Linked DNA regions of Homo sapiens. The protein of the gene in region 1 interacts with the protein of each later gene in a pairwise test. Each region holds a gene or a part of one and is shown in the gene's direction. Other genes may lie near its edges.

The links.
Region 2: the proteins of EML1 (region 1) and ISG20L2 interact in binary tests that used the Homo sapiens proteins (3 or more experiments, as listed by UniProt).
Region 3: the proteins of EML1 (region 1) and STIP1 interact in binary tests that used the Homo sapiens proteins (3 or more experiments, as listed by UniProt).

Annotation. Positions count from the first base shown.
Region 1 is NC_000014.9:99,894,304-99,901,465, forward strand, and holds part of EML1 (echinoderm microtubule-associated protein-like 1), read left to right. Parts: intron 1-325; coding exon 326-455; intron 456-2,841; coding exon 2,842-2,991; intron 2,992-3,929; coding exon 3,930-3,999; intron 4,000-6,625; coding exon 6,626-6,736; intron 6,737-7,162. UniProt on the Homo sapiens protein: Modulates the assembly and organization of the microtubule cytoskeleton, and probably plays a role in regulating the orientation of the mitotic spindle and the orientation of the plane of cell division.
Region 2 is NC_000001.11:156,725,767-156,732,842, reverse strand, and holds the start of ISG20L2 (interferon-stimulated 20 kDa exonuclease-like 2), read left to right. Parts: upstream 1-4,076; 5' UTR 4,077-4,428; exon of another isoform or gene 4,429-5,073; 5' UTR 5,074-5,190; coding exon 5,191-5,937; exon of another isoform or gene 5,938-7,076. Other genes in the region: METTL25B (methyltransferase-like protein 25B), read right to left, coding at 370-562, 728-852, 3,628-3,738. UniProt on the Homo sapiens protein: 3'-> 5'-exoribonuclease involved in ribosome biogenesis in the processing of the 12S pre-rRNA. Displays a strong specificity for a 3'-end containing a free hydroxyl group.
Region 3 is NC_000011.10:64,196,115-64,203,276, forward strand, and holds part of STIP1 (stress-induced-phosphoprotein 1), read left to right. Parts: intron 1-1,156; coding exon 1,157-1,283; intron 1,284-1,378; coding exon 1,379-1,481; intron 1,482-1,739; coding exon 1,740-1,860; intron 1,861-3,825; coding exon 3,826-3,922; intron 3,923-4,054; coding exon 4,055-4,179; intron 4,180-6,761; coding exon 6,762-6,798; intron 6,799-7,010; coding exon 7,011-7,114; intron 7,115-7,162. UniProt on the Homo sapiens protein: Acts as a co-chaperone for HSP90AA1. Mediates the association of the molecular chaperones HSPA8/HSC70 and HSP90.

The DNA of each region.
Region 1 (7,162 bases):
GTATTTTTTCCCCTCCTGATGATAAAAGAAAGTAAACAGTAAAATCTCATGGAAAATCATTGTTGGAATCAAGTTCCTTCCTGCCTTTTACAATTTCGTAGGTATCTCATGTACTTAAGTAAACAGAATATCAAAAGCAAACAAGATGCAAACTTTTGTTTCAAACTGTTTATTTTTATGTTACTTTTTTCCCTAGGATATCAATTAGAATGACAGAAGGGTAAAAGTTTCTCTTTTATACTGAAAGGCTAGAGAGGATAAAGCATTTGTTTTCAGGTACGCTGGGCACTGAGGTATCTTACTGAAATCTTTGTTCTTTTTGTAGAAGAAGGCTATGTAAAAATGTTTCTTCGTGGACGCCCTGTTACCATGTACATGCCCAAAGATCAAGTGGATTCTTACAGCTTGGAAGCAAAAGTAGAACTTCCAACCAAGAGACTCAAGCTGGAATGGGTGTATCCTTTATTCATTGATTAGGTCTCACATGAAGTTATCAGTCAATCAATGCTTGATGTTAACTGTAGAAATTCATAAAACTTAAGTCCTCTTAAGCTTTTAAAAAACAAAATGTTTTACTGTTACTTTTGAAAACTTAATGTAACAAAATTGACTATATGTTAGAGACCTACAGAGTTCTAACAAAGTAGGAGCTTCATAAGAGCGGCTTATTATCAGGAGAACCAACTTATCATTCCTGAACGAAATAGCTGTGGTTCTGGCTCAAATACATGTTCATTATTTTGCTGAAAAGAAAATATGAAGATGTTATATGATTGTATGAGTGATTTTTTTCTTTGTCAGGAGAAAATGAATCACTAGTTTCTGGTCCGAATTTTATTCTTTCCAAAAGAATGACAATAGTAGTTAGAAATATATAAAGAAGTGAACAGTGAAAATAATCAAGAATGGGTAGAATTTTAGATTCTAATGAGAACTGATTTTTTTTTAAGAGATAGTCTCTCCCTATGTTGCCCCAGCTGTTCTTGAGCTCCTGGACTCAAGCAATCTGCTCGTCTCAGCTTCCCAAAGTGCTGGGATTATAGGCATGAGCCACCATGCCCAGCCAAAAGCCAATTATTTTTAACAGGAGCTATCATATACTTAGTCAACTCTTCAGGGACAGATGGAAAACTAGGCACTCTCTATATTTATAAGGAAACAACAGTGACAATGCAAGAAAATATTGTCCTTATGATTGAGGAAATGGGAGTATCCAAAATTGAAACTAAACCACATTGGCAAAAAAGTTTTTAAACCCAAAGAAAGAGGGGTACTCTGAAAGGAGGACTAGCATTCTCCCCTTAAACCAAGTATGGACTTGGCCAGCCTTAGGAGCCAAACTTCAAGTGTGACCTTGACTGAAGGGATGATAGAAAAATATGAATACCAAAGTACTGAATGAAGGGAGTCAAGTGAATGACGTAAATGAAATTGACATATCACGTAGATATCATCCTACTTTAAAAAAAAAAAAACTAGCTACAGGGATGCATCCCTGTAGTCCCAGCTGTTCAAGAGGCTTAGATGGAAGGATCCAGGAGTTCAAGTCCAGCCTGGGTAACTTGGCAAGTCCCTGTCTCAAAAATACATATATTCATATCAATCAAAAAGGCTCCCCAAAAATCTAGGCCACAAAAATCTGAATCAACCATATAACTAACGTTCTTGAAACAGAGGTGCTGGTAGCTTCATGGCATGAGGTTTGGAAAAGTGAGCTTCCAGGGGAAAAAACAACTGAAAGATAAGAAAATAGAAACTGTGAAAAAGGTGAATTAATTGTTGATTATTTTTCCATTTTCTTATTACTTTAGAGGAATCCTGCAGAGACCACCTTTCAGTCTATGCAGATTTTAAGGGAAAAAAAAAATTTTTTTTCACCTTCAAATATTTGAGTACCTGTTTAATGCCAAGCCTGGAACACAAATTATAAGATGTTGGTTTAAATTTAAGCTATTGTGACTTCATTTAGAATAATTACTATTTGAGATTATGGAATCATATTCCTTAGAAATTTTTTAAAATTACCACCTGTACCTAAATTTCTCCCCCAAAATACTTTTTTTTTTTCCAGATTCAAATGTCATAGGCATTTACCTGCACCTGTTTTGGAATCTATCTTGATACATGAAATTGAAGTGCTTCAGCTCGTCTTTAAGTCAGTAGTGGTTTATTAAACGGTTATATCACATCTGGAAAACATTATTCAAAACATTTATTCAGCCTACTTCCTGTTCATATTTTAGAAGATGTAAAGCAATGAAATTTGCTCTAAATAAATGGCATTTTTTTGGCCATTATTTGGCATCTTGCCGGGTTACTTTTTACATCCAAGTTGAAGTGATATTTTGTTCTCAAAATAAAATAATTTTCAAGGTTTGGAAATATAATGCAAAAATTTTAACAGGGATTCTTATCCCAAAGGATCTGAGGGGCCTGATTTTTTTTTTTTTACCTTTTATGTATGTTTGTGTGCATGTGTGTGTGTCATTTGTACCCTTTGTAAGTACTTTTACCATGTTTAAAAAAGGAATTTTTTAGTAAAAATTTAGCTCGTAGATTACAGTAAAAAAATTAATAATTGACTCAATAGCTTTCTAAAAATAAAACCAAATCATTGTGAAAATATGTATTCACATTACATCAATGACTGTTTCAACTTTACTGCATGCCTTTTGGGGGTCACATGTATTTGTCATGGAATATTTGCAATTTAATGTTGTTTAAATTAGTGATGCTGATGGTAATAGTTATATGGTATTTTATTGCCTGTGCCTGTTGAATAAAGCTGATGTTTTGTCAGCTCTTAAAGGGAAAAAAAATTTTATCTTGACATCCACAAAGCTATGGGTACAGGGGTCGAGACTGCCGTAACAACCTGTACTTGCTTCCGACGGGAGAGACCGTCTACTTCATCGCATCCGTGGTGGTGTTATACAACGTGGAGGAGCAACTGCAGAGGCATTACGCTGGCCACAACGATGACGTGAAGTGGTAAGTCCTGAAACAGGTCATTCCTGCGACTCAGAAGGCGAAGGTAGGAGGATCGCTTGAGGCCAGGAGTTCCAGACCATCCTGGGCAACAGTGAAACCCTGTCTCTAAAATAAATAAATAAATAAATGTGATTCCTGTTGCACAGGTGGAAATAGCATTAGCAGAACACGGTCAGTATTGGGACATAACTAAAGAGAAGGAAGAGGGTCTGAGGAAATGAGGTCTTTGGGAGAGCTCTTCTGTGTGGTCTCCTTGTGGTCCGCTCACTACTGCGCTCCGTGAGACCCCTCTCATGTTTAATTTTCCAGCCTCACCAACGCATGAGCTTCACGGACCACATTGTCTCAACAAACAGCGCCACCTCTTTGGAGGCCTTCTTAACACATCATGTATTAAAGGCTTCTAATTTGGGTCTTTATTTTTTGATAAACATAAAAATGTGTTGCCTCATGTTTGTGGCTGAGTCGGCTCTTCCCATAATTCATTTATAGCTTTTGGTAGGCATATTACATATCTTGGAAGGATGGATGCGTGAAGAGATGGATTTATATATTTGTATTTGTCCTGGTTCCTTGGTCAATGATAAAAATCCTGTTCACGAAAGATGGTATCTTTCCTATTTATGTACTCAACATGACTTTTTAATAAAGATTGTAGACTAATGTAGTGGTTCTGAGATTGAAATGGTATTTTCCCAGCAGAGGATGCTTTTTCCTTCAGTTTGAAAATTCTTAAGAAGAAATAAGGGAATTAAGATGAAATGAATTAGGTACTAGTTGTCTAACGTCGTGGTGCTCAGAGAATTTGTCATGAGTCTGTAAGAAGTTAGGCATTATATATTTCTTATATTTAAATTTTTGACTAGATTATATTTGAGCAAGGGAAAAGTAAAACTTACCTGCAACATGTAGATGTTTTGTAAATATCCTTTTCTTAGCCTAGCAGTTCATCCTGATCGGATCACGATAGCAACAGGACAAGTTGCGGGCACATCGAAGGATGGAAAAGTGAGTTACGTTACCTTTTCATTGTTTCATAATGAACTGGTAACACAAAGTAATTTTTAGAAAACATTGTGCTGCTGAGTAAGGCTGCTTAGATATAATTATGGTATCTGAAAACTTCTGAACCCCTCACTAGAATTTTTTATTGTAAATTAGAAGACTTATTGTGTGGCAGGGTGCGGTGGCTCACGCCTGTAATCCCAGCACTTTGGGATGCCAAGGCAGGCTGGATCTCTTGAGGTCAGAAGTTTGAGACCAGCCTAGCCAACATAGTGAAACCCGTCTCTACCAAAAATACAAAAATTAGCCAGGCGTGGTGTCACATGACCGTAGTCCCAGCTACTCTGGAGGCTGAAGCAGGAGAATCACTTGAACCCGGGAGGCGGAGGTTGCAGTGAGCCAAGATCATGCCACTGCACTCCATCCTGGGTGACAGAGAGAGACTAAGTCTCAAAAAAAAAAAAAAAAAATACTGACTGTGACCTTAAAAATCCCTGGAGCTCATCTTAATTTCATCAGATTTTTAAATAGCATTGTTCTGAACAAAGAATTCGCTAATTCTTAAAATGTTTATTTATATGATAAGTATTAAAAATATGAAGGTAAACATTTAATAAAGTTAAAATTATAATAATAATTTGAATGTACAACATTTTGCCAAATTTCAGCCACCCTCTGCCCTGTCCTGTGAATGTCGTTTAACAGTCGTGACTTTAACCCGTGAAGTTTGTGTCTGTGTGCAGTCACAAAAGCTACTAGGAGGTTTTTAGCACAGATTTTGCAAGCACTTCAGCAAGACTTTAATTTGCATTTTAAGGCGTTAGAGAGGGAGCTTGTAGCTTTTTTGATATCTACTTTTATATAGCTTGTTATTGCATAATATTTTATCTGAAACTAATTTAAGTACATACATTTTATCAACATGTTTTCATCCAGAAAAAATGAATACTACCATATTTCAGAAAATATTTTAGTAACATTGGATTTTAAATATTAATCTTATGCTATTTTCCATTAATTTTTTTTTTTTTCTTGAGACAGGGTCTCACTCTGTCACCCAGGCTGGAATGCAGTGGCACAATCACGGGTCATTGCCACCTCTGCCCCCACAGGCTCAAGTGATCCTCCCACCTCAGCCTCCTGAGTAGCTGGGAGTACAGGCACACGCCACCTCGCCCGGTTAATTTTTGTATTTTTGGTAGAGACAGCGTTTCACCACATCGCCCAGGCTGGTCTCAAACTTCTGGGCTCAAGCGATCTGCCCACCTCAGCCTCCCAAAGTACTGGGATTACTGGCGTGAACCACTGCGCCTGACCTGCATTAATATTTTATACTTGAAAAGAGTTAACAGAAATAATGGAAATCAGACCACTATTATGTAAATAAATTTACTTAAATTGAATGGGTCTTTCAATTTTTTTTTTTTTAATGTTAAATGGCTTTGAAAAATTCTTTGAAATTAGTGGTAAGCTATTTGTTCCTCCCTCTAGTGGCTTAAAAGTATATTTCAGTTTCTGGCATTGAAATTGAATCGGTACTTTAGAACTAGAGAAAAATATTATAGTTATCTTTCAGTTTACCCATAGAGAAATCCAGAGAGGCCTAGTGAATGCCCGCGGACACCCAGCTGCTTAGAGATTAGACTGAACTAGAACTTGGTTCACCTAACGCCTGCCTAGTGTTTCTACTAGGTCCAAGGCCAGCACCTTTTCTTACTGATAAATCTACTGATTGCTCTATGATGTTTTCTTCTATTAAGGAAGAGAAAAATTAGCGTAAATAACCTAGGAACACAGTTGAGAGGATTTTAAACCAATTATAACAATTCTAAATCTTATTTGTACATAATTGATGCCTGTTTTGCCCAAGAATATTAAGCTCTTTTTTTTTTTTTTTTTTTTTTTTGAGACAGAGTTTTGCTCTTGTTGCCCAGGCTGGAGTGCAGTAGTGCAATCTTGGCTCACTGCAACCTCCACCTCCCGGGTTCAAGCGATTTCCTGCCTCAGCCTCCCAAGTAGCTGGGATTACAGGCATGCACTACCACGCCCGGCTAATTTTTTGTATTTTGTAGAGACAGGGTTTCACCATGTTGGTCAGGCTGGTCTCGAACTCCTGACCTCAGGCGATCCACCTGCCTCAGCCTCCCAAAGTGCTGGGATTACAGGCGTGAGCCACCACACCTGGTCTGTTAAGCTCTTAATATTATTTGGTGGTGACCATCTTATGAATTTAGGCATGGTGACACCTTAGCAACAAAACAGACTTTAAAAGAATAACCCATATGTGAGATTCCATTTTACTTGTCATTTTTCATTTCTAAAATTCAGACACATTTAGATGCACAAATTAAAGTGTCAGTTCCCATGGTACTATTGTCAAAAATTGGCCATTCAAATTCTAAAACTTGGTAGACCTCTCCTTACTGTTAAATTATCAACAAGGCCCTCCACCTCCTGAAGTCATCGGGAATGTTTTATTTACATAAAAAGGCAGACTCCTGAAATGCAGAAAAAGATCTTTTGTTTTGACAAAGTCCGAGTTACTGCCCAAGTAATCTTGTAGCTTCAAGGTAAAGACACATGTGTATCACCATCACAATTGATGGCTCTGTGTTTCTTTTCTGAACAGCAATTGCCCCCACATGTGCGCATCTGGGATTCTGTGACATTGAATACTCTCCACGTCATTGGAATAGGTTTTTTTGACCGAGCAGTCACCTGTATTGCATTCTCAAAATCTGTAAGTATGTGCCCTGTGGATATTGCTGTCTTCTTCCACAGGAAGTAGAGAATCAACTCAGGGTTGAAGAGGGGGAGTTGACACACTCGATACCTGCCTGGGTGTATGTACAGATTTGGACTCTGAAACATTCCTGCTTCCCAGAACCCCTCAGTCAGAGGTCATATGCATGTCTCATCAGGGACACACACTTCCTTCCAATCAGACATCTCCAGCCACATGGGTTTGGTGATGAAAACAGGCCCCCAGAGATATCGTCCTCACTTTCCTTAAGGCAGTTTATGTGCTCTGGCCTTGAATTTCACCTGCTTCTTTCAAGGGTGGCTCCAGCGTGTCTGTCTCTGCCATCCTGCTACTGGAAAGGGGTCCCGATCCAGACCCCAAGGGAGAGTTCTTGGATCTCTTGTAAGAATTCAAGGCAAGTCC
Region 2 (7,076 bases), on another chromosome or scaffold:
AAGATATAAGGGTGAGGGTGGAAGCAAGGAGAGTGGACCTGACCCCAGGTTCAGGCCCACTCTCCTTGCCTCACAGGTCAGTGATTCAATCTCCCCCACAGAACAAGAACCCTGCGTGAAGCCATGAGCAGATTGTGGAGATTTGGGAACAGGAATGAGACAGTGATTCAGACCTAGCTGCCAACCAACCCCACAAAAGAATGAAAAAGAACCCCAGCATCAAAATATGATTAGTTATGTCTGTTGAGGTAAAGGAATGTCTAGGGCCTCTGGCCTTGCATGTGAGGTAAAGGGCACACATATTTGTAAGCCAGGCTTAAGGAGTCCCTGGGCTCCCAGACACCACCCATGCTCCAGCCATCTCCTCACCTCTCCCAGCCTCCGGATCTCATGCTGCTTCTTGGGCCTGACATGTTTCCGGAATGGAGCTGTTAGTCGGGAGCTCTGGCTGGGGTTCTCCAGGAATTCTGAGGGGGTCTGAAAGCCAGGCATCCGGGTAAAGGCCAGGGCACACGCCGTGGACTTCAGGGCCAGCAGGGTGAGTGGCCACACTGACCTGTACCTGAGATAGTCCAGCCGAGGCCTCCAGTGAATAGTCCCATCACATCTGAGTGCAGCAGTTTACAACCCGAGGCCCAGGAAGACCTTATGAGACTCTCTGAGCAATATGCTCACTGCAGGGCTTAAAGCCTTGAGTTCCCCAGCACAGGGACCTTCTAGCCCATACCTGACGACCTCCCCTTCCCCAGGCATCCCCAGCAGCATTGTGGCCAGCTGTGGTGGTTTCAGTCCATCCAATGCTTCCTGCCATGAGCAAGGGAGTGTGTCCCATAGGTTGTCTGTGAAAAATTCCTACAGAAGAAGGGGAGAAGCCATCAGCAAGCTACTACCACTCCCATTCTTTCCCACACCACTCTCAACTACACACCTCATTGCCTGCCTCTTCCCAGCACTGCTGCCACATAGGGCCACTGCCTGTAACTGGCAGGTACCTCCTGCTAAGCCGAGTCAGTTCTCTGAAGCCTGCTCCAGCCTCCCCGACTCTGGTGGCTTAACTCTGTTTCCCTGGAGTCCAGATTGCATTCTGGACACACTTCTTTTAGCAATTTCTGCACTTATTTGTGTCTGTTTTCTCTATTAAATTGAATTTCTTAAGGGGAGGGATGGGATGGTATCTTCACATCTGCATCCCTAACACTTACCAGAGTGACTGACACACAGTATTAGTACATTACCACTTAGTAACCTGCATTATATGTGCCAGACACTGGTGTCTTTTTATTCATTCGTCCACCACAAATTCTGGGGCTGTGTTTCGGTTATACATCAAGCTCTATTGTAGGCTCAGGGAATACAACAGTGAACCTGAGACAAGATTCTGGCTCCTGCAGAGTTTACATTAAAAAAAATAATAACTTTGGCCGGGCATGGTGGCTCACGCCTGTAATCCCAGCACTTTGGGAGACCAAGGCGGGCAGATCACCTGAGATCAGGAGTTCGAGACCAGCCTGGCCAATATGGTGAAACCCCGTCTCGACTAAAATTACAAAAATTTGCCAGGCATGTTGGCACACGCCTGTAATCCCAGCTACCCAGTAGGCTGAGGCAGGAGAATCACTGGAACCCTGGAGGCAGAGGCTGCAGTGAGCCTAGATTGTGCCACTGCACTCCAGCCTGGGCAGCAGAGCAAAACTCCCTCTCAAAAAAAACAAACCAAAACAAAACTTCAGACAACATCATATGTCATATAGACAAAACACTAATGAAACAGTAATGTAATGGAGAGTTTGGGCAAGGACTACTTTAGATAGGATGATGAGGGAAGACCTGTCTGAGGTGACATTTGAGCTGAGACTTGAATGATGAATAGGTGCTAGGCATGTAAAGAAAATACAGGTAATAGCAAACACTTATTTAACACCTTCTCGGCCAGGTACTGCTGTAAACATTTGACATGTATTAATGCATTTGATCCTTTAAACAACACTTTGAGGTAGGTATTATTTTTTATCCCCCATTTTACAGATGTAGAAACAGGCACAGCACTTAAGTAACTTGCCCACGTCCAAAAGCTAGCAAATAGCTGAGCTGGGATTATTTATTTATTTTTAGAGATGGAGTCTCACTCTGCCACCTAGGCTGGAGTGCAGTGGCGCGATCTCAGCTCACTGCAACCTCCGCCTCCCTGGTTCTAGCAATTCTCCTGCCTCAGCCTCCCTAGTAGCTGGGACTACAGGTGTGTGCTGCCAAGCCTAGCTATTTTTTTATTTTATTTTATTTTAGTAGAGACGGGGTTTCACCGTGTTGCCCAGGCTGGTCTCAAACTCCTGAGCTCAGGCAATCCACCCACCTCGGCCTCCCAGAGTGCTAGGATTACAGGTGTGAGCCATCGTACCCGGCCTGAGCTGGGATTTGAAACCAATTTTACTCTAGAGTCCTTGTTCTTAACCATTCTGCGATTGCCTTTCTGTGGCGGAAGAGCAGTGAGTGCAAAGGTCCAGATGCCTGCCATATTGGCAGAACAGAAATCAGGCCAGCAGAGGTATAGCACAGTGAAATGTGTGAGAGAATAAAATGGGATAGAGTTCAAGAGACAGTAGGAGCCAGAATATGGGTTTTATAGGTAATAGTAAGGAGTTAGGATTTCATAAAAGTATCTAGGAAGCAAGGGATTGTCGTGATCAGATTTACATTTGAATGCTATCAATCTAGCTGCTCAGTGAAGAATTGGTAATGGCAGGGCAGAGGTAAGCACACAGCAAGATCGGTTAGGAAGTAGTTCAGAAGAGAGGTGATGGTGGCTTGGCCTAGGGTGGCAGCAACGGAGGTGGGGACAAATGGATGAATTTGGGATCTATTCCGAAGGCAGAGCCAAGAGGACTTGTTGAAGAACTGGATTGTGGATCAATGAAGGACAGCACTGAATCAATGATGGCCTCTGGGTTTGTGGTCTAAACAATTCAGTGGATGGTGGTGCCATTTACACATTCTCTCATTTATTCTTCACAATAATCCTTCAGACTGGGATCCATTGTATAGCTGAGGAAACCCGGACTAGGACAAGTTGGGGGTTAGGGAGGCCTAAGGTTAACATCATAGGGGAGGCAGGATTCTAGACTAAGCCTTTTTGATTCCAGAGCCAGGACTGTCTACTATACCACAAAACCACGAATTTATTCAAAGCTTGGATGAATAACGTGTGTTCTTGGAACACCTGACATGCTCCAAGAAGAGTTCAACATAGTTGCAGCATGGTTCCAATGTCCACGCATTTTATTACCTTGGATCTGGGAAGATTACAAAAACAATCTAGGTAGGTACTAGAAATATTATTTATGCAGTGAGCCGAGATCGTGCCACTGCACTCCAGCCTGGGGGACAGAGCGAGACTCCGTCTCAAAAAAAAAAAGAAAAAAAAAAAGAAAAAGAAAAAAAAAGAAATATTATTTATGTCAGCTGAAAAAAAAGGAGGGATCACTCCAGTTTTAACCCCTTCTTGTACAGAAAAAGACTGAAACTCATAGAAGGAAAGAGATCAGAGGCTAATTCTCCAGATTCTCTCCCTGACGTGGGCACCTAGCCAACCACACGACCAGAGACATCCCACCCACGCCCCTGTGGCCTCACGATGATGTAGGCATCCAAGATGGAACGGTAGAGTGCCAGGACACGGGTGAGGTTAACAGCTAGCTGCTTCCTCCCCTCATGAGAGAGGCCTCGGGCGGAGATGCCCGGCATCCCGGGGTCCAGCAGGGAGCGCGGGGAGCGAGAACGCAGTGAACAGGGATCCAGGGTCAGTACTACGCGGGTCCAGGACCCGGACGGGGCTCAACTCTGCAGGCAGAACAGGAAGAGTTTTGGGTCCAGTCTCCGACGCTGCCTTTCCGGGATCCGATGCTGGAGTGGAAGATTTGAGGCGCCCCCCAGACGTCACAGGTCGCGACGTTTCACAGTGAGAAGGTGTCAGCGTCAGAGACACGTAGGGCGGGGTAACAGTGCAGTGACGCCACAAAAGCGTGCCGCTGAGCTCAGCTCACAACGAGGCGGGCCAAGTTCCAGTTCCCGCCCCTTGCCGTACACTCCTCTCCTCTTACGGAAGTGAAGCCGGAGGTGTCCGGCGGGCTGCAGTTCCGGTTTATCGCGGCCTTCCCACACCTTCGCGTTGTACCACCACGGGGCTAGAGGGGCCGGGGAGCGCATCCCGCCCCCGCCCCCACCCACGCCGCCCCCTCCTCCGCCGCCACTGCCGCTCCTCACACACTCGGAATCACTGGCCTCACTACCTGGGGTCGGGGCGGTGCGGGTGTGCGCGCGCCGACCTCTGGCGCGTTCTAACCCGCGCGCCTGCCTTCCCGGGCTTCGTCGGCGCGCACCGATTTCCGCATCCGGCTCCGGACGCTTCCGGTCTTAGCTGGACCCGTCTGGGAGGTAGGTTTGTGAGCGTGAGAGATCGATCTGTACCGCGGGGATCCGAAGTATGCTTATCCAGGTGGGCTGCCTCAAGCCTCGATCCCACCCCCGCGCTGGTAGATGGTGTCAAGGTCCTTGCGTGGGAGAAGGACTTGGGTGAGATGCATGCGGAGATTGCCCCCAATTCCGGCCTGGAGCCAAGGGAAAGGGATGCCTGGATTTGTGTCTCTATTGGTGGTCCACGCTGCGGATGCCTGGGTAGCCCAGAGGTTATCTACGCCATACTTCTCACTGTTTTTGAGCATACCTAGATGTTCCTTTCCTAGGCGGAGTATAGATCGCACGTGTTCTAGCCTCTTAGACTCAGAGGGTTCGAGCTCTATAAGCCCCTCCACTCCCTTCATTTTACAAATGAGACTCAAACCTAGAGCGCGGTAATGACCTTACTAAGACCAAATGGCTGGTGAATTGGGCTTCACTAGAATCCAGGCTTGCTGGCTAACACCAATGCTCCCTCCATCATTTCATGTTATGTTTTCATTTCCCCTCTGTCTGAGAGATTGCTCTGATGTCTTTCCTTCCATAAGTCCTACGGAGATCGAGCTTACCTCATTTTTCTCCCAGGCCTAGGAGCTCAATTACCAGGATCACTTTCTTCCCCAGGGTGTACTACAGACCTCCACATGTTGGACAGTAGGATTCAGCAGAGAATGAGTCCCACATCCTCTTTTCATCCATAAGCCACTCTTCCCAACTACTCTTCCGCCTTCCATTGTCCCTATGTCTACTTTACTGCTCAATCTGGATTTTGGGGAACCTCCTCCCAAAAAGGCATTAGAAGGAAATGCCAAGCACCGAAATTTTGTCAAGAAGCGGAGGCTCTTAGAACGGAGAGGCTTTCTGAGTAAAAAGAACCAACCCCCTAGCAAGGCGCCTAAGTTGCACTCTGAACCTTCAAAGAAAGGGGAAACTCCTACGGTCGATGGCACTTGGAAGACCCCTTCCTTCCCAAAAAAGAAGACAGCTGCTTCCAGCAATGGGTCAGGACAGCCCCTGGACAAGAAAGCTGCAGTGTCTTGGTTGACCCCTGCCCCTTCAAAAAAGGCTGATTCTGTTGCTGCTAAAGTAGATTTGCTGGGGGAGTTCCAGAGTGCCCTTCCAAAGATCAATAGCCACCCAACCCGCTCTCAGAAGAAGAGCTCCCAGAAGAAATCCTCTAAAAAGAACCATCCTCAGAAGAATGCCCCACAGAACTCCACCCAAGCTCATTCAGAGAATAAATGCTCCGGAGCATCCCAGAAGTTGCCACGGAAGATGGTGGCAATTGACTGTGAGATGGTGGGCACAGGACCAAAGGGGCATGTTAGTTCCTTGGCTCGATGTAGCATTGTCAACTACAACGGAGATGTGCTTTATGACGAGTACATTCTTCCCCCCTGCCACATTGTGGACTACCGAACCAGGTGGAGTGGTATCCGGAAGCAGCACATGGTGAATGCCACACCCTTCAAGATTGCTCGAGGCCAGGTAAGAAGCATGGGGCTTGATGGTGGCAGGGAGGTGGATGGAGAGAGGTCTAAATCATTTTTCAGCAAAGGATATCACTATGGGAAGACACCAACGTTTGTGGAGGGAGGGAGGAGAATCTATCAGTTGTTGAAGAAGGCCCCCTGTCGGTGGAAGAAGCAGTGAAAGTCAGGAAGGTACAATTAGCTGGTGTCACAAACTTCATTGGTCAAGATCTATTTTAGCCGGGCGCAGTGGCACTTGCCTATAATCCCAGCACTTTGGGAGGCTGAGGCGGGAGAATCGCTCAAGCCCAGGAACTCAAGCCCTGTCTGGGCAACATAGCGGAACTCATCTACAAAAAAGTTAGCCAAGTGTGGTACATGCCTGTAGTCCCAGCTACTCAGGAGGTCGAGGCTGCAGTGAGCTGAGATCACACCACTGCCACTGCACTCCAGCCTGAGCGACAGAGTGAGATCCTGTCTCAAAAAAACAAACAAAAAAACTATTTTAGGTTCTAAATTGGGTCTGGGGAACTGGGAATCTGCATAGAAAAATAACAGCAAGTGATGAAACTAGACAGAGCTGCAGACACCAGTGTCAGGAGAAAGGGCTTGATTTGGAAAAACCTTGCGAGTTGGAGCCTAAGCTTGAGAGAGGAAAGGTGGAGAGCTCGTCCCAAGCAAAAAGTAGCCTGGGGCAAGTGCGGAAAGTGGTGGTGGTAAGAGAGGGCAGAAAGTTGACAGGAGGAGCTGGGGTATATATTGTCCAACTGGAACAGGTAACCAGTGAACGGCATAAACGGCACAGGGCCGGCACTTCGGGTTGTCATCTCACTCCTAGCCCTGTGCTGGCCATGGAGCGCAAGGCATGAACGGAAAGGAGAGTGAGCTGGGAGGGGTGAAAGAGGAAGTGAAGGGAGAGCAAGAGACCTGCTGGTCTCAGGAGGCCGCCAGAGGGCGCCCTTGGTCCACGTCTTTGCAGTTTCAGGTCCACACTCTGCCCTCTCTGGACACGCTGTTCCCATAATGCCTTATATGCGGTCAGTTGGAGGAGGTTCGTTAGAGGTGAGGTGACTGACTATTTTAGAAAAGACGGAAAGAAGAGTTAAACATCTTGTGCACAAAGGGGCGCAGCCAAGCAAAGGCATAGGAGAGGCA
Region 3 (7,162 bases), on another chromosome or scaffold:
GCCAGGCACGGTGGCTCATGCCTATAATCCCAGCACTTTTGGAGGCCAAGGTGGGCAGATCACCTGAGGTCAGGAGTTCAAGACCAGTCTGGCCAACATGGTGAAACCTCATCTTCACTAAAAACACAAAAATTAGCCAGGTGTCATGGTGGGCGCCTGTAGTCCCAGCTACTCGGGAGGCTGAGGCAGAAGAATCGCTTGAACTCGGGAGGCAGAGGTTGCAATAAGCTGAGAGCTCATCACTACACTCCAGGCTGGGTGACAGAGCGAGACTCCATCTCAAAAAAAAAAAAAAAAAAAGCTTCACAAGAGCATTCCTAGGAGTAATGTGTAGCAAAGAGTGAGCTGCGGGAGTTGCCCTTCCCGTGGTCACCACAGCGGCTTCATTGCTGCCAGTGTGAATGTTGGTCCTAGCAAGACTGGAAAGTTGAGAGTAATTCACGTCCTTGTCGTGATCCGAAGAATGTTGTCCACATCAATCCCTAGGCCTTTGCTTCCTGGCTGGACATGGTGTGTGGTTGGGAGTGTCCGCTAAGCAGCACTCTTTTAGAGCAGAAGGCATGTGCCTCAACGATTTCATTTCCCTCCTTGTAAACTGGAACAGCAGATTGTTGCCAAATTTAGCACCTTGAAATGGGTAAGCGTTGGTTGTTTAGGGTGTCTCAGCTGGAAAAAGGCCCTCCAGTGTGGGCGGTAGTGAGCTTTGCTGAAGACTCGTGCCACTCAGCCGCTTCTCATCCTCTCACCACCCCCTCTGCTATGGTTCCCTGACAACTAAGACCCTGAGGCAACCACAAGACTGACACCAGATCTGCTGCAGCCTCAGAATAAAGCCTGGTCCAAAACTCTGCTGTCCTCACCGGTTGCTTCAAGTCGAAGGGATTTCCTCTCCCCTAAAGAAGCGCTCTGCTTCCTGACAAAGATCTAGGAGAGTAGGTGGAAAAGGGGGAGTTTCAGAGCAAGCAAAGATGAAGTTAGTTTTCATTCTAACGGCTGATACTTTATTGTCTATAGCTGACTGATGAAGAGGCCTTCAGGAGAACTTGATAGAATTCTATTCATGTTAGTTGCATTTCAGAACTTGTGACAGATCATAGATTCTTGCTTTGTCACCTGAGTTAGATTTGCTCAGCACTCACTTCTAAACCTCATCTAGGCACTGAAAGAAAAAGAGCTGGGGAACGATGCCTACAAGAAGAAAGACTTTGACACAGCCTTGAAGCATTACGACAAAGCCAAGGAGCTGGACCCCACTAACATGACTTACATTACCAATCAAGCAGGTGAGGCCCAGAAACAAGGGGCAAGGGAATTGTTGGGTGTCTCTGAGGGAGGAAGCAAAGACTGACTGTTCCTTCTTAACCATCCTGCCTGGCAGCGGTATACTTTGAAAAGGGCGACTACAATAAGTGCCGGGAGCTTTGTGAGAAGGCCATTGAAGTGGGGAGAGAAAACCGAGAAGACTATCGACAGATTGCCAAGTAGGCTCAACCTTCCAGAATACCTTGAGTAGCGCGGAGGGTTTGCTGTCCAAGACTTAAGTTTCTCTGCATGGGGAGGAGGGCTGCTGGCCATAGAATCTGCTGTGTTAAGAAAGGGCTGGCAAGAAGGTCACCAGAGACAAGACAAAAGGTGTTGAAGGCAGTGATGCGGGCCTTTCTAGCTGCAGGTGTGTTTTTCTGCAGGAGCTGACTTTATCTCTCTGTCCTAAGCAGTCCTTGTCCCTCTTTCTTTATCAGAGCATATGCTCGAATTGGCAACTCCTACTTCAAAGAAGAAAAGTACAAGGATGCCATCCATTTCTATAACAAGTCTCTGGCAGAGCACCGAACCCCAGATGTGCTCAAGAAATGCCAGCAGGTGCGTAGGAAAAGAATAGGGGTATTTTCTTGTTTTCCTAATAATTGAGCCATTGTTTCTTACTGTTTTATTTAATAATGAACTTGACTTTTTTTTTTTTTTGAGATAGGGTCTCACTCTTTCACCCAGGCTGAAAGACAGTGGCACAATCGTGGCTCACTGCAGCCTCAACCTCCTGGGCTTCAGTGATCTTCCCACCTCAGCCTGAGTAGCTAGGATTACAGGCACGTGCCACCACGTCCAGCTAATTTTTTTTTTGAGATGGAGTCTGTTTGTCACCCAGGCTGGAGTGCAGTGGCATGGTGTCTGCTCACTGCAACCTCCGCCTCCCAGGTTCAAGCAATTCTCCTGCCTCAGCCTCCCGAATTGCTAAGACTACAGGTGCACGCCACTATGCCCGGCTAATTTTTGTATTTTTAGTAGAGATGGGGTTTCATTATATGGACCAGGCTGGTCTCAAACTCCTGACCTCATGATCCACCCACCTCAACCTCCCAAAGTCCTGGGATTACAGGCCACTGCGCCTGGCCACGTCCAGCTAATTTTTTTATTTGTAGAGAAGGGGTCTCACTGTGTTGCCCAGGTTGGTCTTGAACTCCTGAACTCAAGTGATCCGCCCTCCTCAGCCTCCCAAAGTGCTGGAATTATAGGCGTAAGCCACTATGCCTGGCTGAACCTGATCTTTTTTTAGGTAGTGGCTTTGGTCATCTTACATGATTCTTTCTCTGTCATTTAACAGTGACAACATGTAGGAAGTGATCTGGTGTTTTTTTTTGTGGTTTTTTTTTTTTTTTTTTTGCAGTTTTTGGTATTGGCCAAGATTTCAACCCTAAATGTGTTAATATTGAGGGCCTGTGCATTGAGAATGTTAATAGTTCTTGTAACATAACATTTTGACTATTTTATAAAGACTGTAAATTTCTTTTAAAATCTTGCCAGCAATAGCCGGGTGCAGTGGCTCACGCCTGTAATCCCAGCACTTTGGGAGGCTGAGGTGGGTGGATCACAAGGTCAGGAGTTCAAGACCAGCCTGGCCAGGATGGTGAAACCCCGTCTCTACTAAAAATACGAAAAAATTAGCTGGGCGCAGTGGCAGGCGCCTGTAATCCCAATTACTCAGGAGGATGAGGCAGGAGAATCGCTTGAACTCAGTGGGGCGGAGGTTGCAGTGAGCCGAGATCATGCCACTGCACTCCAGCCTGGGTGAGAGTGAGACTCCATCTCAAAAAAAAAAATCTTGCCAGCAATAGCCAGTCGCAGTGGCTCACGCCTGCGATCCCAGCACTTTGGGAGGCCGAGGTGGGCGGATCAAGAGGTCAGGAGATCGAGACCATCCTGGCTAACACGGTGAAACTCTGTCTCTACTAAATAAATAAAAAAAATTAGCCTGGTATGGTGGTGGGCGCCTGCAGTCCCAGCTACTCGGGAGGCTGAGGCAGGAGAATGGCGTTGAACCCGGGAGGCAGAGCTTGCAGTGAGCCGAGATCGCGCCACTGCACTCCAGCCTGGGCGACAGAGCGAGACTCTATCTCAAAAAAAAAAAAGAAAAAAATCTTGCCAGCAATACTCTGAAAATTAAAATCCTAATCTGATTTTTTTTTTTTTTGAGATGGAGTCTCGCTCTGTCACCCAGGCTGGAGTGCAGTGGCGCGATCTCGGCTCACTGCAAGCTTCCGCCTCCCGGGTTCACGCCATTCTCCTGCCTCAGTCTCCCGAGTAGCTGGGACTACAGGCTCCCGCCACCACACCAGGCTAATTTTTTATATTTTTAGTAGAGACAGGGTTTCACCATGTTAGCCAGGATGGTCTCGATCTCCTGACCTCGTGATCCACCCGCCTCGGCCTCCCAAAGTGCTGGGATCACAGGCGTGAGCCACCGCGCCCGGCCCCTAATGTGATTTTTAAGCCCAATATTTAGATGATTATGAGCGTTTAAATTATTATTTCAAGAATTATGTTTTGTAGGCAGAGAAAATCCTGAAGGAGCAAGAGCGGCTGGCCTACATAAACCCCGACCTGGCTTTGGAGGAGAAGAACAAAGGCAACGAGTGTTTTCAGAAAGGTACTGCCTGCAGCTGGGGGATTGGGGGAGCAGTGCTGGGTGTGCCTCCCGTGCCTGGCTGTGGGGTAAATGGCCGGCTACACATGGGGGCTTTTTGCTTTTTAAAAGACAGTCTTTGTTTTTCTTCCCCAGGGGACTATCCCCAGGCCATGAAGCATTATACAGAAGCCATCAAAAGGAACCCGAAAGATGCCAAATTATACAGCAATCGAGCTGCCTGCTACACCAAACTCCTGGAGTTCCAGCTGGCACTCAAGGTGACGAGACCTGTGGGGGCGGCCATTACTGAAAGCCTGCACATGAGGAGTGGGTTTTCTCTCTCTCTCCTCATCAACATTGAGTTGATGATGATCATGATGTTTGAGACAGTGTCTCACTCTGTCCTGCCTCAGCCTCCTGAGGAGCTAGGACCACAGGCTCATGCCTCCACATCCTGCTACATTTTTTATTTTTTTTGTAGAGTTGGGGTCTTGCTGTGTTGCCCAGATTTATAGGGGTGTGTGTGTGTATGTGTGTGTGCGTGTGTAAAATATGGGACCTGTATCTAACTGGTCGTGTGTGTGTGTGTGTGTGTGTGTGTGTGTGTGTGTGTAAAATATGGGACCTGTATCTATCTAACTGGTCCTGGTCCATGGAGTCACTACTGGTTGGCAGTACATTGGAAGGTGGGTCCTTTCACCCCTGTAACCTTCCTCTTTTTTCTTTGTTTTTGCCTTTTTAACCATTTTTAAGAAGTGGAATTGCTGGGTCATGTGGTGTCTGTGTTTACTTTTTTTGTTGGTTTGTTTGAGACAGTCTCACTCAGCTGCCCACACTGGAGTGCCGTGGCACAATCTCGGCTCACTGCAACCACCATCTCCCGGGTATTTTAGTAGAAACGGGGTTTTACCATGTTGGCCAGGCTGGCCTTGAATTCCTGACTTCAGGTGATCCACCCGCCTCAGCCTCCCAAAGTGCTAGGATTACAAGCGTGAACCACCACGCTTGGCCCCCTTTTTTTAAAAAAAAAAAAAAAAAAAGACAAGGTCTGGCTCTATCGCCCAGGCTGGCTGGAGTACAGTGGCACAATCTCAGCTCACTGCAACCTCTACTTCCCTGGCTTAAACCATCCTCCCACCTCAGCCTCCTGAGTAGCTGGGACTACAGGTGTGCACCACTGTACCCAGCTAATTTTTGTATTTTTTATAGAGACAGGGTTTCACCATGTTTTCCCAGGCTGGTCTCAAACTCCTGGGCTCAAGCGAGCCTCCTGCCTTGGACTCCCAAAGTGCTGGGATTACAGGCATGAGCCACTGCGCCCGGCCTATGTTTTATTTTTGAGGAACCACCATATGTTTTTCAGCAGCTGTACCATCCTTGCTTGCTTTTCTGTTTTGCTCAGCTAGGTAGGTCTGCTGTTCTCAGTCATATCAAGTTAGGTCAAATACAATTGTTTGACACTGTGGAGTTCCCATAATCCTCTCGAATCTCAGCCACCCTGCCTCTATCAGCAGTTTTTTTTGACTGTTCTCTAGCTGACAAACCTGGACCGTATTGTGGGAAGGTGACAAAGTGTGACCTGTCTAGAAACAGCCATACCTGGGTTTGTGTTGGTTTTTATATTTTGTGCCACTGTCTTCTGGGTCTGTGTCTTGGCCTAGAGACATCATTTCTACTAGTAGGATTGTGCAAGAGTCATGTCAAAAGCATATTGATTTGTGAGGCAAAGAATAGCAGGTTGTCAATCACCTGGGAGGTGGGCAGTACTTTCCCGATCATGAGAGCGTGGAGAAAGAATGAATGGGATTTCTGCTGCTGTCCCAGCTTCTTGGTGCAAGAGTTGGAATTAATTCCAGGGGAGCTCAGTGTACTGCATAGTGTTCTCTTCCTCATCATTTCTCACTTTGAAGATGTTTCAAAGAGAAGAATACATAGTGAATATCTGGTGTATCTTCCACCTTTATCTGACAAATGTTGACCTGTTTTTGCTGAACTGTTTGCGAAAGGAAATTGTATACATTTGGTACTTAGAATGAGACATCCAAGTCTTGTGCACGCATTGCCTGAAAAGACTCCTGTCCAGTGCAGCACTGTCAGCACACGCGACCTCACCAGACCAAGGCCTGATGCCATCTGCCGTCTGTCCATCCATACTTAGACTTGCCCACTTCTCCAAAAATATGTTTTAAAACTGAGGTTTTTTTATTTTTGTTTGTTTGTTTTTATTTTTTTTTGAGACAGAGTTTCACTCTTGTTGCCCAGGCTGGAGTGCAATGGCGTGATCTTGGCTCACTGCAACCTCTGCCTCCTGGATTCAAGCGATTCTCTTGCCTCAGTCTCTTGAGTAGCTGGGATTATTACAGGTGCAGCCACCAGGCCAGCAAATTTTTTTTTTTTTTTTTTTTTTTTTTTAGTAGAGATGGGGTTTCACCATGTTGGCCAGGCTGGTGTCAAACTCCTGACCTCAGGTGATCCACCCACCTTGGCCTTCCAGAGTGCTGGGATTACAGGCATGAGCCACCGCACCCAGCGTTGTTTTGTTTTTTAGTCAGCAATGGTTTTGGATTCCAAAGCTCTCAGGACCAAGGCCCACGCATTTTGTCTAGTTGTCATGTACTCTTCAGTTTCTCAAACTGGAATTGTCCCCCGCTATGTGTTTTTCATAACATCAGCCTCTTGCAGAGTCCAGGCAGTTTGTCTTGTGTGGGATGATCCATCATCTGGAGTTGTCTTTCCTGATGTTGTCCCCTCTGTTTGGTGCTGGGTGAGGCATTAGAGTTGGAAGTCCACATGCTTGAGTTGCCTGTACTGAGCTTGTCCAAGGGAATGAGCCTAATTTCTTTCTGTTGCTTCATTCTAGGACTGTGAGGAATGTATCCAGCTGGAGCCGACCTTCAGTAAGTGCCTTTCTGCTGCCTGTCCCCTGTCTCTAGCCAAAAGATTAGAGAAGGAAAGGGCAAGCCCTTTGTCTACCTGTGTGTCCTTGGGACCTGTAGGATTTAGGATCCAACATCAGCAGGTGTGAACAGTGTTGGTGTGCAGGTGAAGAGGTGCAAGGAGCAGCCTTGGGCGCTGCGGTTGGATAACGCGCCACCTTTCCTGTTTGTAGTCAAGGGTTATACACGGAAAGCCGCTGCGCTGGAAGCGATGAAGGACTACACCAAAGCCATGGATGTGTACCAGAAGGCGCTAGACCTGGACTCCAGCTGTAAGGTGGGGCTGCTTCTGGCCTCCAGGGGCCCCCCCTGCCTCTTTCTCTGT